3 linked regions of the Homo sapiens genome follow. The protein of the gene in region 2 interacts with the protein of the main gene of each other region in a biochemical or structural test. Each region holds a gene or a part of one and is shown on either strand. Other genes may lie near its edges.

Evidence for each region.
Region 1: the proteins of NCOA6 (region 2) and CREBBP form a complex in vitro, tested with the Homo sapiens proteins (2 studies listed by BioGRID).
Region 3: the proteins of NCOA6 (region 2) and RXRA form a complex in vitro, tested with the Homo sapiens proteins (5 studies listed by BioGRID).

The regions. Positions count from the first base shown.
Region 1 is NC_000016.10:3,734,110-3,737,853, forward strand, and holds part of CREBBP (CREB-binding protein), read right to left. Parts: intron 2,707-3,744; coding exon 2,541-2,706; intron 2,095-2,540; coding exon 1,927-2,094; intron 1-1,926. UniProt on the Homo sapiens protein: Acetylates histones, giving a specific tag for transcriptional activation. Mediates acetylation of histone H3 at 'Lys-18' and 'Lys-27' (H3K18ac and H3K27ac, respectively).
Region 2 is NC_000020.11:34,823,559-34,827,302, forward strand, and holds the start of NCOA6 (nuclear receptor coactivator 6), read right to left. Parts: upstream 2,094-3,744; 5' UTR 1,914-2,093; intron 1-1,913. UniProt on the Homo sapiens protein: Nuclear receptor coactivator that directly binds nuclear receptors and stimulates the transcriptional activities in a hormone-dependent fashion. Coactivates expression in an agonist- and AF2-dependent manner.
Region 3 is NC_000009.12:134,324,518-134,328,261, forward strand, and holds the start of RXRA (retinoic acid receptor RXR-alpha), read left to right. Parts: upstream 1-1,937; 5' UTR 1,938-2,114; coding exon 2,115-2,142; intron 2,143-3,744. UniProt on the Homo sapiens protein: Receptor for retinoic acid that acts as a transcription factor.

The sequences.
Region 1 (3,744 bases), on a different chromosome or scaffold from region 2:
CGAAGCTGGGACTGCACACAGGGAGCTGGTTCCGTTTCTCGCCCCACCTGACACTATCGCGAGCCTTTCCCCATTTCCCAGAATTGACAGCATGATGCAGAGCAGAGCTAATAGCAAAGCAGTGCTCCACCCCACGCACCAGCCCTCACTAAGGCTGACCCCCAGAGCGAGCTCCTGGGGTGTTGCTGACGAAGGCATGTCCCTGCCCATTGTTGTCCATGAACCAAACACACAAGGGACAGCAGGTCTACATGCCGACACCTCAGCATCCCGCCTCCTAACACATGCATGTCCCCGGTGCACAGGGAAGGCTGCCCCAGCAGGAGCCCCTATCAGGCCTGTCTTCTGGACAACCCCACTGCTGCCATGCCACAGGCAGGTGCCCCCTCCTGGGGTGGAACTCAGCTGCGCAAAGCCTGTCTCGGACGCGGTAACCTCCCGTGTCACCCTTAGGAGATGGAACTCAAGCATTAACTCACCAGACACCAGTGAGACCAGCTACACTCCAGCGGGAGCAAGTCCGAAGACAACAGGCCAGGAGCTCTGCTTAGGAGCCACCTAGGGCGTAAACCCACGCCACCCCCTGCCCGCGCCTCCTCTGTCCTGCGAATGACACTCTGGGGCGCCGTCCAGCAGGTGGCTGCCTCTCAACCACCTGTGCAGTGAGCACGAGTGTGTGTGGCGGAAGCGGCCCAGGCCCCACGCTCCGCCTACAGCCCATCCGGCACCCACCTCACAGACGTGCTCTCATATGGGACAGGCACCAGAGTGGCAGTATGTCCCCAGCCGGCTCCCGGCTGCCTCACCCATGGCAGCAGCCCACGCAAGAGCCACCTCCATTCACCGCTTTTCCTCACTGGTCACAATCGCCTGTCCCAAGTTCTGGGGCTGCAGCCTTCAACGTTCGTCATCGCTCTCCCTGCACCTACAGCTACAGCCCACACCCACGCCACCATCATCTCTTCCCCAGACAGCCGCACAAACCCGCACACAGCGCGCCTCCTCCCACCGCCTGGCGGGTCCTCTTCCAGCACCTTCCTGTGGTGGGCGGGTCTGGCCCACACGCCACCTCCCCAAGGCTCCTTCCCCTTCAGAGCTCTGCCACGCTCAGAGCACACCATGCTTGGGTCTGGGTTCTTTTTGTTTCACATCCTACCAGGACACAGCCACTCCCTTGGGGGCGGAGATGGGGTTTTGTTTGTTCTGAAACGGAGTCTCGCACTGTCTCCTGGGCTGGAGTGCAACGGCGCAATCTAGGCTCACTGCAACCTCCGCCTCCCGGGTTCAAGCGATTCTCCTGCCTCAACCTCCCTCGTAGCTGGGATTACAGGTGCCCCCTCCCACAACCGGCTAAATTTTTGTATTTTTAGTAGAGATGGGGTTTCACTGTGTTAGCCAGGCTGGTCTCCCTTTCCTGACCTTGTGATCCGCCTGCCTCGGCCTCCCAAAGTGCGGGGTTACAGGTGTGAGCCACCGCGCCTGGCCAGGGATGGGGTTTTGTTTGGCTCAGTCTGCACTGCCTGGCACTCAGGGGCAGCGCCAAGGAGAGAGGGCAGCAGGGCATGAGCATCATGTGCAGAGTGGCCACCAAACACGGAATAAGGCCTGGCAACCCTGTGCCTCCTCGACTCACTTTTTACATCAGCGGGTTGTGTCCTGACTGCCCCATGTCCCATTTTCTGTCTTCCTCTCTTCCCTCTCCGAGTCTAAGTGGACCCCCAGCTCCCCAGAGCATCCACTGTGCAGAGAGTGCAGAGCCCACACTGCTGCCCACCAACGCCCTGTGCTGCAGGTGGTGTCGACGTGCATGTGTGAACGGAGACACCACCACAGGAAGGACCTAACAGTCGACACGCGCCTCCCAGCCTGCCACCCTGCAGCTCCAGCGGGACACGTGGGCAATGGAGCTCAGAGAAGGGTCTGTACCTCAGTGGTTTCACTGGCTGCAGTGCTCTCTTCCTTTTTCCTCTCCTCTTCTTCTTGTTCTAGTTCCTTAATGCTCTCTTCTAACACATTGGGCCAGAAATCACCTTCAAAATAGGGCAGTTCCTTGGCACTGGTGAGCCTGTCTTCAGTTGCTTGTTTGAAAATATCCTGAGTGGGCAAAGCACAACAGTGAGATGAGGGCCATGCACGCGTGCCCCCCACCATGGTGCGACAGACCCCCACGCAAGCGTGCCCCTCACCATGGTGTGGCAGAGTCCCATGCATGTGTGCCCCCCCACCACAGTGCAGCAGACCCCCACACATGTGCACCCCCCACCACAGTGCTGGAGCCCCTATGTGTGCAACAGTGATGCACAGGCCCCAATGCCCACTGATGGAAACAGCTCCAACTGTGCTGCTCTCAGACGGCCAGGGGAAAGCCTCAATCAGCTGAAGAAAATGCTTCTAAGTTCTCACTTTAGGCTTTTATTTTTCTGCTTTCTAATCCTCATAAGTGAAGGTAATTAACAAGTATGCGAATGCAAGAAAAAGGCACACAAATATCCTCCCCTCAGTTGTGACAAAAGCCACCACCTTCCTTCAGCGCCGGGTACCTTGTAGTCATGGATGATCCGCTCTGCAAACGCCTTGTCCAGCATCTTTTTGTACCACTCCTGCAGTCGTTTTGGCTTGGGTATTTTTTGATCAGGTGGGTGGCAATGGAAGATGTAATCATCTCCTTCACTTGGAGGACAGGCCCAGATGTGCCCTGTCACATACCTGCAGGACCCACGCACACACGTCAGATGAACGTGCCAGTGAAATCGGCCCTGCCTTTAAGGAGTTATAGCAGAGGAGCAAGGACTAAAGCCAGGACAGAAGTAACCAGAGAGAGAGAATGAATGCCCACAAAGCTGGGTGTGGTGGGGGCAAGGCTCGAACTTTATCCTGAGCAAATGCAAGCCTGCAAATTAGCCCTGCAACACTTCTCCCTTGGGGTGCACACACAGGGCAGGGCCGAGGCTGCAAAAGAAACCTGAGGCCTCATTAAAGAACCAGGGAATATGATGGCTCATCAAGGCAATGCCATCCCCTTCCTCCTGTGCACTGTAAAGGCAGTTCGGTTGACTATTTTTCTCCAAGGGTCAATGTCAACATAAACCTCATTCATTCTGTTCAAGACACTTTGATCAAATGCCCCTATCCTTTTCAAGTTTCAGAAGGGAATGGGGCAGGTCTAGAGTACAGAAACCAAGGGCTAGAGAAGGAAGCCAGACCCAAGACAGCATACGCTGCAGGGTTCCGTTTACACAAAGGATTCACAAAAGACAAATTCAGAGAGACAAAGTAGATTAGTGGTCGCCTGGGGCAGGGAAGGTTTAACAGCAAGGGGCAGGAGGAACATTTTTTTTCTTTTTTCTTTTTTTTTTTTTGCGGGCGGGGGGCAGAGTTTCATTGTTGTTGCCCAGGGTGGAGTGCAATGGCATGATCTCGACTCAGCGCATCCTCTGTCTCCCTGGTTCGAGTGGCTCTCCTGCCCCCACCTCCTGAGGAGCTGGGATTACGCTAGGCACCCGCCACCACGCCTGGCTCATTTTTTGTATTTTTAGTACAGACAGGGTTTCACCATGTTGGTCAGGCTGGTCTTGAACTCCTGATCTCAGGTGATCCACCTGCCTTGGCCTCCCAAAGTACTAGGATTACAGACTAGGTGAGCCAATTTTTTTTTGTATTTTTCTTTTTTTCTTTTCTTTCTTTTTTCTTTTTTTGAGATGGAGTCTTGCTCTGTCGCCCAGGCTGGAGTGCAGTGGCACAATC
Region 2 (3,744 bases):
TGCGAACTTTGAATTCTTCTCTAACATGATCCAACTTCAATTAATAAAATAGAGACTCTGGGTGTCTACAATTTTTCACTTTTCTTTTTTAGGATTTTGTGTTCCTTTGTGGTAAACACCTAGAAGAGAAGGAGCATCTCTCTTTTTTTTTTTTCTTTAGACAGTGTCTTGCTCTGTCGCCCAGGCAGGAATGTCATGGAATGACCATAGCATGGCTCATTGCAGCCTTGACCTCCCAGGCTCAAGCGATCCTCCCACCTCAGCCTCCTGAGTAGCTGGGACTACAAGTACAAGCCACATCAGGTGGCTAATTTTTTTTATTTCTTTTGTAGAGATGGGGTCTGCCAGCTCCTGGGCTCAAGAAATCCTCCCACCTTGGCCTCCCAAAGTGTTGGGATTACAGGCGTGAGCCACTGTGGCTGGCCGGAGCACCTCTTAAAACTCTAGAAAGTTAGAAGGTCTCAAAGATAACTTCTTTGCACAATTAGAGATGAACCAGGAAATACCAAATAACTGGCTGCCTATACTTTTTTGTATTCCCTTCAGCCTTTGTATTGCCACACTCATTACAGGAAGAAAACAAATTTAATAGTTATCTGGTATATACTGTTATGCTTCATTTCTTGTTGTTTTTGTTTGTTTGCTTTTAGTTTCATCACAAGAATGTTATGCTTCATTTCTTAACACCTTTCTCCCAGCTAGCAAATTCCTTTAAGGCAATGTGTTTAGTGAGGAAGCAGCCGACAATTTCTAGTACCCCTCTGCCACTAACTTGTAAGATCTTGAAAAGTCAACTTTACCTTTCTATGTTTCAGCTAAAATCACTACCTGATTTGAAATCTTTACTTGATCTCTCAGGCCTTTGTAGTTTTTATACATTCACTCTTCTTCACCATTTTACTGGCTTCAATAACGCCTTTCTGATGACCTCTCCAGGTGACTCTGCTCTTAAGCTGTGGGCTGTCCCCTTCCAGGGAAGACACCTTGGGTCACCGCCCCCAAACAGCCAGGTCCCTCCTTTTAAAGACACACACAACTCCCTAAGTTGATAAAGGTTCTCTCCTTCCTTGCCAACCAGTTCCACTCTCTGTGCCTCTTTTGCTGGCCAGCTCCTGCACCCAAACCTCAGTCTCCCTTTGTCCCCCTTTTCTCTCATCAAACACCTCCTTTTTCCTGTTGCTTCCCCCAAGAGGGGGTGGAGGATGCTTGGGACATAAGTCTTCAGAGCCTTGGGAGTTATACAGCTTTGCAATTCAGCCCCAGTACCCCAAGGACTGCCCCAATCTGAACCAGCGTCTGTACCCAAAGGGCCCTCATTCCTCATCAATCACCTCCTTCCCTCCCAGCAAAGAACTGCTCCAGCCCTGACAGCCTGAGCTTGGCCCCCATGCCTCCACCCCAATCCCCAGGTCCTACCTGCATTAGGGCTCTAACACCGCCTAAGGCCTAACCCAGTTCCACGTCCTGCCATCCTCTCAGCCCATAGACCCCAATCCCGGTTCCCTTCGGACCCAGTGTTCCTTCTCCGCGACCCTGACCACGACCCCACGACCGGCTCCCGCCTGTTCCCCAGGCCTGGAGCGCCACCCCGTGCAGACCCCGGCCAGCCCTGCACTCCCTCAGTGCACCGGCCCCCGCGCCCAGCACCCTCCCCACCCAGCCCGGCCGCCGCTCCCTCCAGCGCCCCCGCCCGCAGGCCTGGGGCCCGCTCCCCAACATGGCGACGGGGACACAAGCGCGGCGGGCGGGGCGGCTCCGGGCCGGGCCCGCTCTCAGACCGTGCCACTCGGTCGCCCGGCGCCATTTTTCCGCGCGGGCCCGGGCGGCGCCTCCTCCCCGCGAAGCCAGCCCGACAAGGACCGCGGACGCCCGGCGGGCCCACCCCTTACGGGCCCGCGCCGCCGTCCCCTCACCTGAGCGCGGCCCCGGCCCTCCCGGGCGGGCCTTGGAGCGCCGGCCCGGGCCGTGCGTGCCCGCCGCCCTCGGTGCGTCCGTCCGTCAGTCCTCGCGTGCGCCCGTCTGTCCCGCCGCCCGCGCCCGGCCGCCCGCAGCCCGACCCGGCAGGGCCTCACGGAGCCGGCGGGGAGGGGGATGGGCCGGACCGGGCCGGGGAGGGAGGGGGAGGGAGGGAGAGAGGGAGGGAGCGCGAGAGGGGGCGGGGCGGACTCGAGGGGCGGGGCATTGCCCACGTGACCAGACGTCCCCGGGAGCGCGAGGTGGAGCGCGCGCCAGCTCCCTTCGGTGCTGAGTGCTTAGTGCTGGGATCTCGTGGGTCTCTGTCGGCTTTCCAGGGCTATTCTCTCGCCAGTGAGTCCCACTTCGGAAGCACACATTGCACAGTCTTTTGCGAGCGCTCTGAGTATCCTTGGACATGGCAACTCCAAGCCTCAGTTTACCCATCTGAAATATGGGGAAAATCATAGTGCTTGTGAAGAGCAAATGGAGGTGGGCTTGGAAAGCACTTGTCACCGTGCCTGACACATACTGTCTAATAATAAGCTTAATGGGATATAGATAAAAGCTTTCATTATTATTTGCCTCTAAATCCCTCTCTTCTTTTTCCCATCATTACCTCCCTAGCAAGCTAAAATGCTCAGTAAATAGAATTATTGATCGAACGAGTGTGGCCCCTCCCCTCTTCCCAAACGTAGAAAGGCCTCCTCAGCACTGGACTTCATGTCTGTCATACAGGCCTGGATTCATATCTGGCTTTCACTCTTTTTTAAAAATTTTCTGTTTTTTCCCACACTACACTGATGTATTTTTTAAATTTTCGTAAGTACGTAGTAGGTGAATATATTTATGGGGTACATGAGATTTTGATACAGGCATGCGATGTGTAATCACATCATGGTAAATGGGGTATCTAGCAACTCAAGCATTTATCCTTTGTGTTACAAATAACCCAATTATACTCTAGTTATTTTAAAATGTACAAGTAAATTTTGTGTGTGTGTGGTTTTTTTTTTGTTTTTTGTTTTATTTTTGTTTTTTTGAGACGGAGTCTCACTCCGTCGCCCAGGCTGGAGTGCAGTGGCGCGATCTCAGCTCACTGCAACTTCCGCCTCCCTGGTTCAAGGGATTCGCCTGCCTCAGCCTCCTGAGTAGCTGGTACTACAGGCGCATGCCACCACGCCCAGCTAATTTTTGTATATTTTTTAAGTAGAGATGGGGTTTCACCATATTGGCCGGGCTGGTCAGGAACTCCTGACCTCATGATCCGCCCGCCTCTGCCCCTCAAAGTGCTGGGATTATAGGCGTGAGCCACCGCGCCCGGCCAATTGTTTTTTACTGTAGTCACCTTCTTGTGCTAGCAAATACTAGGTCTTATTCTTTCTAACTATTCTTTTGTACCCGTTAATCATTCCCACTTCCCACCTACCTCCCCATTAATCTTACCAGCCTCTGGTAACCCTCCTTCTATTCTCTATCTCCATGAGTTCAATTGTTTTAATTTTTCGCTCCTGGCCCGGCATGGTGGCTCACGCCTGTAATCCTAGCACTTTGGGAGGCCAAGATGGGCGGATCACCTGAGGTCAGGAGTTCAAGACCAGCCTGGCCAACATGGTGAAACCCTGTCTCTACTAAAATACAAAAGCTAGGTGGGCATGATGGCGGGTGCCTGTAATCCCAGCTACTCAGGAGGCTGAGACGGGAGAATCTCTTGAACCTGGGAGATGGTGGTTGCGGTGAGCCTAGCTCGCGCCACTGCACTCCAGCCTAGGTGGCTGAGTGAGACTCCGT
Region 3 (3,744 bases), on a different chromosome or scaffold from region 2:
GATGAGAAAACTGAGATACAAGGAGGGAAGTGACCCAGCTAGGCCACACGGTTGGTAGGAGGTGGACCTGCAATCTGGCCCAGGCCTTGTCTATCTGGGACTCCCCCCCAACCCCCCAACCTGAGTACAGTCAGGAGGGGCCCAAGCAGTCACAGAGACAGGCCTGGAACGCGGCGGGCACATGGCACTTTTGCAGTGTATGTTGGTGCTTACGGGGGCTCTTTCTCAGTCCTATCCTTTGTTTGCCGCCCCCCTCCCTGGCAGGAGGAACTCAGTTTTAGAAGGGCAGTGGGTTGGGCCGGCATGCCATGTGCAGTGGGGAAGTGGGTCTGTTGTGGCTGTAACCACAGTGGGTGAGGACCAGGTGTCAACAGTGGCCCTCATCCCGGAGGGAGTGGGGCAGGCTGCCTGTTGGACAGGGTGTGTGAATAGGGGGACGGGGTGGCCTTTGGTAGGGGCCCAGGGGTCAGTGAAGAGGGGGAGGGGGAGAGGGCTGCCTTGGGCTCTGGCTGTGCTGGGGGTGGGCTGCCCAACCAGGGCACTTCTGTCCCAAGTGGAACCAAGACCTCCCACCGGAACAGGCCACCGGAGCCCTCGTGGAACCCAGCTCCGGGTGGCCCGACTTGAGGGGCACCCAGGCAGCAGGACACCTCTCTGGTCTCGGGCTGTTATCTTTGGGCCGTGTCATGGCTGTCCACACGCGGTCATCACCTCCTCACCTCCCTCCCCATTAGCGTCCCCTGACCCGGGCCACCACGCGCAGCCTGCGTGAATGGTCAGTCCCTGTGCCTCGCAGCCCGGGCCCTTAGGTCTAGGTGGTCAGCAAGCTCGCGGTGGGGGTGCGGAGGGAGGGCGCGGCGGGGCGCCTCGGCGCCTGCTCAGGAAGGCTGGGCTTGGCGGCGCGCAGGTAGCTCACACCCAAATCCGAATTCCAGCCGCCCGAGACGGCGGGCGGCGGGCGGCGCGCGGCGGAGGCGGCCCGAGCTGTCCCGGGGCAGGAGTGCTTCCTTTCGTTTTCAAACAAATCGTGAATTTAAAAGTCAGGCAGAGAACTACCCAGGGTATAAAAATAGCCACCGGCCACAAAGTCTGTGTCCAACTCCGGGCAGCGCCTGCCCAGCCTGGTGCCTTTGAAGAGGGGTCCCAGGAGTGCGGGTCGATGAGGAGGCGAAGCGCGCACCCCTCCTCGTTCCCGGTGGGCTCGTGGGTCTCTCCGTGGGGGTAGGGCGTGAAAGTGTGGGGTGGACCGGGGGTAGCGTCCGGAAGACGAAACCTTCCCCGGACGAGGAGCTTGTCCTCTGCCGTTGGGGCACATCGCCACTCCCGGGCCTCAGTTTCCCCACGTGTCCGCCGCGGCGGGGTGCGAGGTATGGGTGCCGCGGCCATCCCGCCCGGCTCTGCGCTTGCCTGGCCCGGGCCGGGGTCCCCTCGCGGCCACCGCCCGGCCGCTTTGTGTGGCCGCGCAGACAATGGCCCGGCCGCTGGGCTCCCGGCCCGGCTCTCCGCCTCCTCCGGGCCCTTGCGCGCAAGTGTGTGTGTGCGCGAGTGTGTGGCGGGCCCGGGGAGGGAGTTCTGCTCCCGCCCCCGCCCCCGCCCCGCTCCCTCTGCGCCCCGCCCCCTCCCACGCCGCCTCCTCGCGGCTCCCGGGAACCCCTGGCGGAGGCGAACTCGCAAGTTTGCACGGCGCTCTCAACTCGGCGGCCGGGCGGGCGGCGATCGCGGGGCGGCGGCGGCGGAGGGGGGCGCGCTCCGGGCGGGGCTGGGCGGGCGGGGCGCGGGCCGAGCGGTGGCGGCGGCGCTGCGCCGAGTCAGCGCCCGTCGCGGGCCCCCCGCCACCCCCCCGCCGGCGCCGCAGCGCCGCGGTCGGAGCGGGGCGCGGGCGCGCGGCGGCGGGGGCGCGGGCCGGGCGCGCGCGGCGGCGGCGCGCAGACACAAGTAGTTTACATTGTTGGGCGACTTTTGCAACAACTCGCCGCGCCGCGGCCTCCGCGCGCCGCCGCCGCCACCGCAGCCGCCGGCTCCCCGCCGCCCGGGCCCGGGCCGGCCGCGCCGGGGGCCGCCGCGCCCGCCGCCCGCTGCCTGCGCCGCCGGCCGGGCATGAGTTAGTCGCAGACATGGACACCAAACATTTCCTGCCGCTCGGTGAGTGCTCGCCGGGCCGGGCGGGGACGGGGCCGGGGGCCGGGGGCCGGCGGGCGGGAGGGGGCCGGGGGCGCGTTGGCGGCGCGCGCGGGGGGTCGCCGGCCCGGGCCCCGCTCGGACCCCTCGCCGACCTTCGCGTGAGTTCGGGCGCCGGGCCCGGGGAGGGTCGACCCGGGGCAACTTTTCGCGGGGCCGGGGCGGGGCTGGGCAGCGGGCGGGCGGCGGGGCCGGGGGGCGGGTGGCAGGTTCGCCCGGGACGAGGAGGGGTCTCCCGCTCACCGGCGGCCGCCTGCGCCCCGGCGCCCAGCTGCAGCCGCGCCGCACAGGAACCCGGCCGGAGCGGGAGGAGCAACTTCTGCGCTCCGCGGCTCCGGCCTCCCTGGCCTGGGGACCGGGACGGCGCGCTGGGCCCCGAGCGGCCTCTGCGCCGCCCGCCCGTCGGGCTGCGGCTTCTAGCAGGCCGCTGGCCCTTGGGTGTGTGTCCGCCCAGGAAACAGACTGGGACCCTGTTATCCCCAAAGCAGCCCACGCCCGGGTGGGCAGGGTCCCCCGGGGCTGTATGAACAGAACGTCAGACCTGGGAAGGCCCCATTCCAGAAATGGGGCCCCTCACTCTGGCACCCCCGGGTGTTCTCCCAGGCTGGCTCTCCATTTGTGAGCAGGACAGCGCAGAGGCGCGTAGGGTCAGTTTCCCTCCTCCTCCTGCCATCCCGCCCGGTAGCTTCCTATCCCAGACTGCCCGCCAACTCCAGGCCCAGACCTACCGAGAAGGGGGAGAGGGCATGGCTGGGGCCCCCACCCATTGCCCTCCCAAGGGTTTGGAAGCTAGTGAGAAGGGGGAGACTTTATAAATTAGCTCCGGGAAGGATATTAATTTGGTGGTGGGACGGCAGCCAGGCTGTCAGGCCGGGTGAAGGATTTGTGCTGAATGGAAATCGAAACAGCTGATTATGAATGAAGCCCCCGCCATCCGTAGCCCCTCCTGCCCACCCTCCCTGCAGCCTGGGGTGCAGCTTGGCCACCCCAGGAGGTGCTCAGAAGCCAATGTAGCTGCAGGGATGTTTAGTGAGATGGGGCATCAAGGGGAGCCAGCATGGACCTAGCCCCTCCTGGATGTGAGGGTGAGAGTCTGAGTACCTCTGCTACTCACAGGCAGGTGTGCTGCCCCGTGACCGGGGCAGGCGGTGGGTTCCAGGTTTGTCAGACCTAACGCTTACTCCCTGCCTCTGTCATGATGGAGTGGTGGGCTCGAGGCCTTGAATGAGCTCCAGGGCTCAGCCTCCAGGGGTGGGCGCTCATGCCCATTTTGCAGATGAGAAAACTGGCTGGGAGAGGCTGAGCCCCCAGGATACAAGGTGGTGGATTTGGGATTAGCACCCCCAGCTCGTGGTACTGCTGAGTGTGAGGCAGGAGGGAATGCTGCGCTGTCTGTGACCGAGTGCAGTGTGGAGTGGGCTGGGGCTGCCTTTCCCTGTTAAAGCTTTGCACTCACACATGTGCACACACACATCCACACACACAGAGCTAGGCTCTCCCAGACGATTCCTCTGGAACAAGAATGCTCAGCTCAGTGTCTGGCCCCTGGACGTGGCAGGGGCCTGG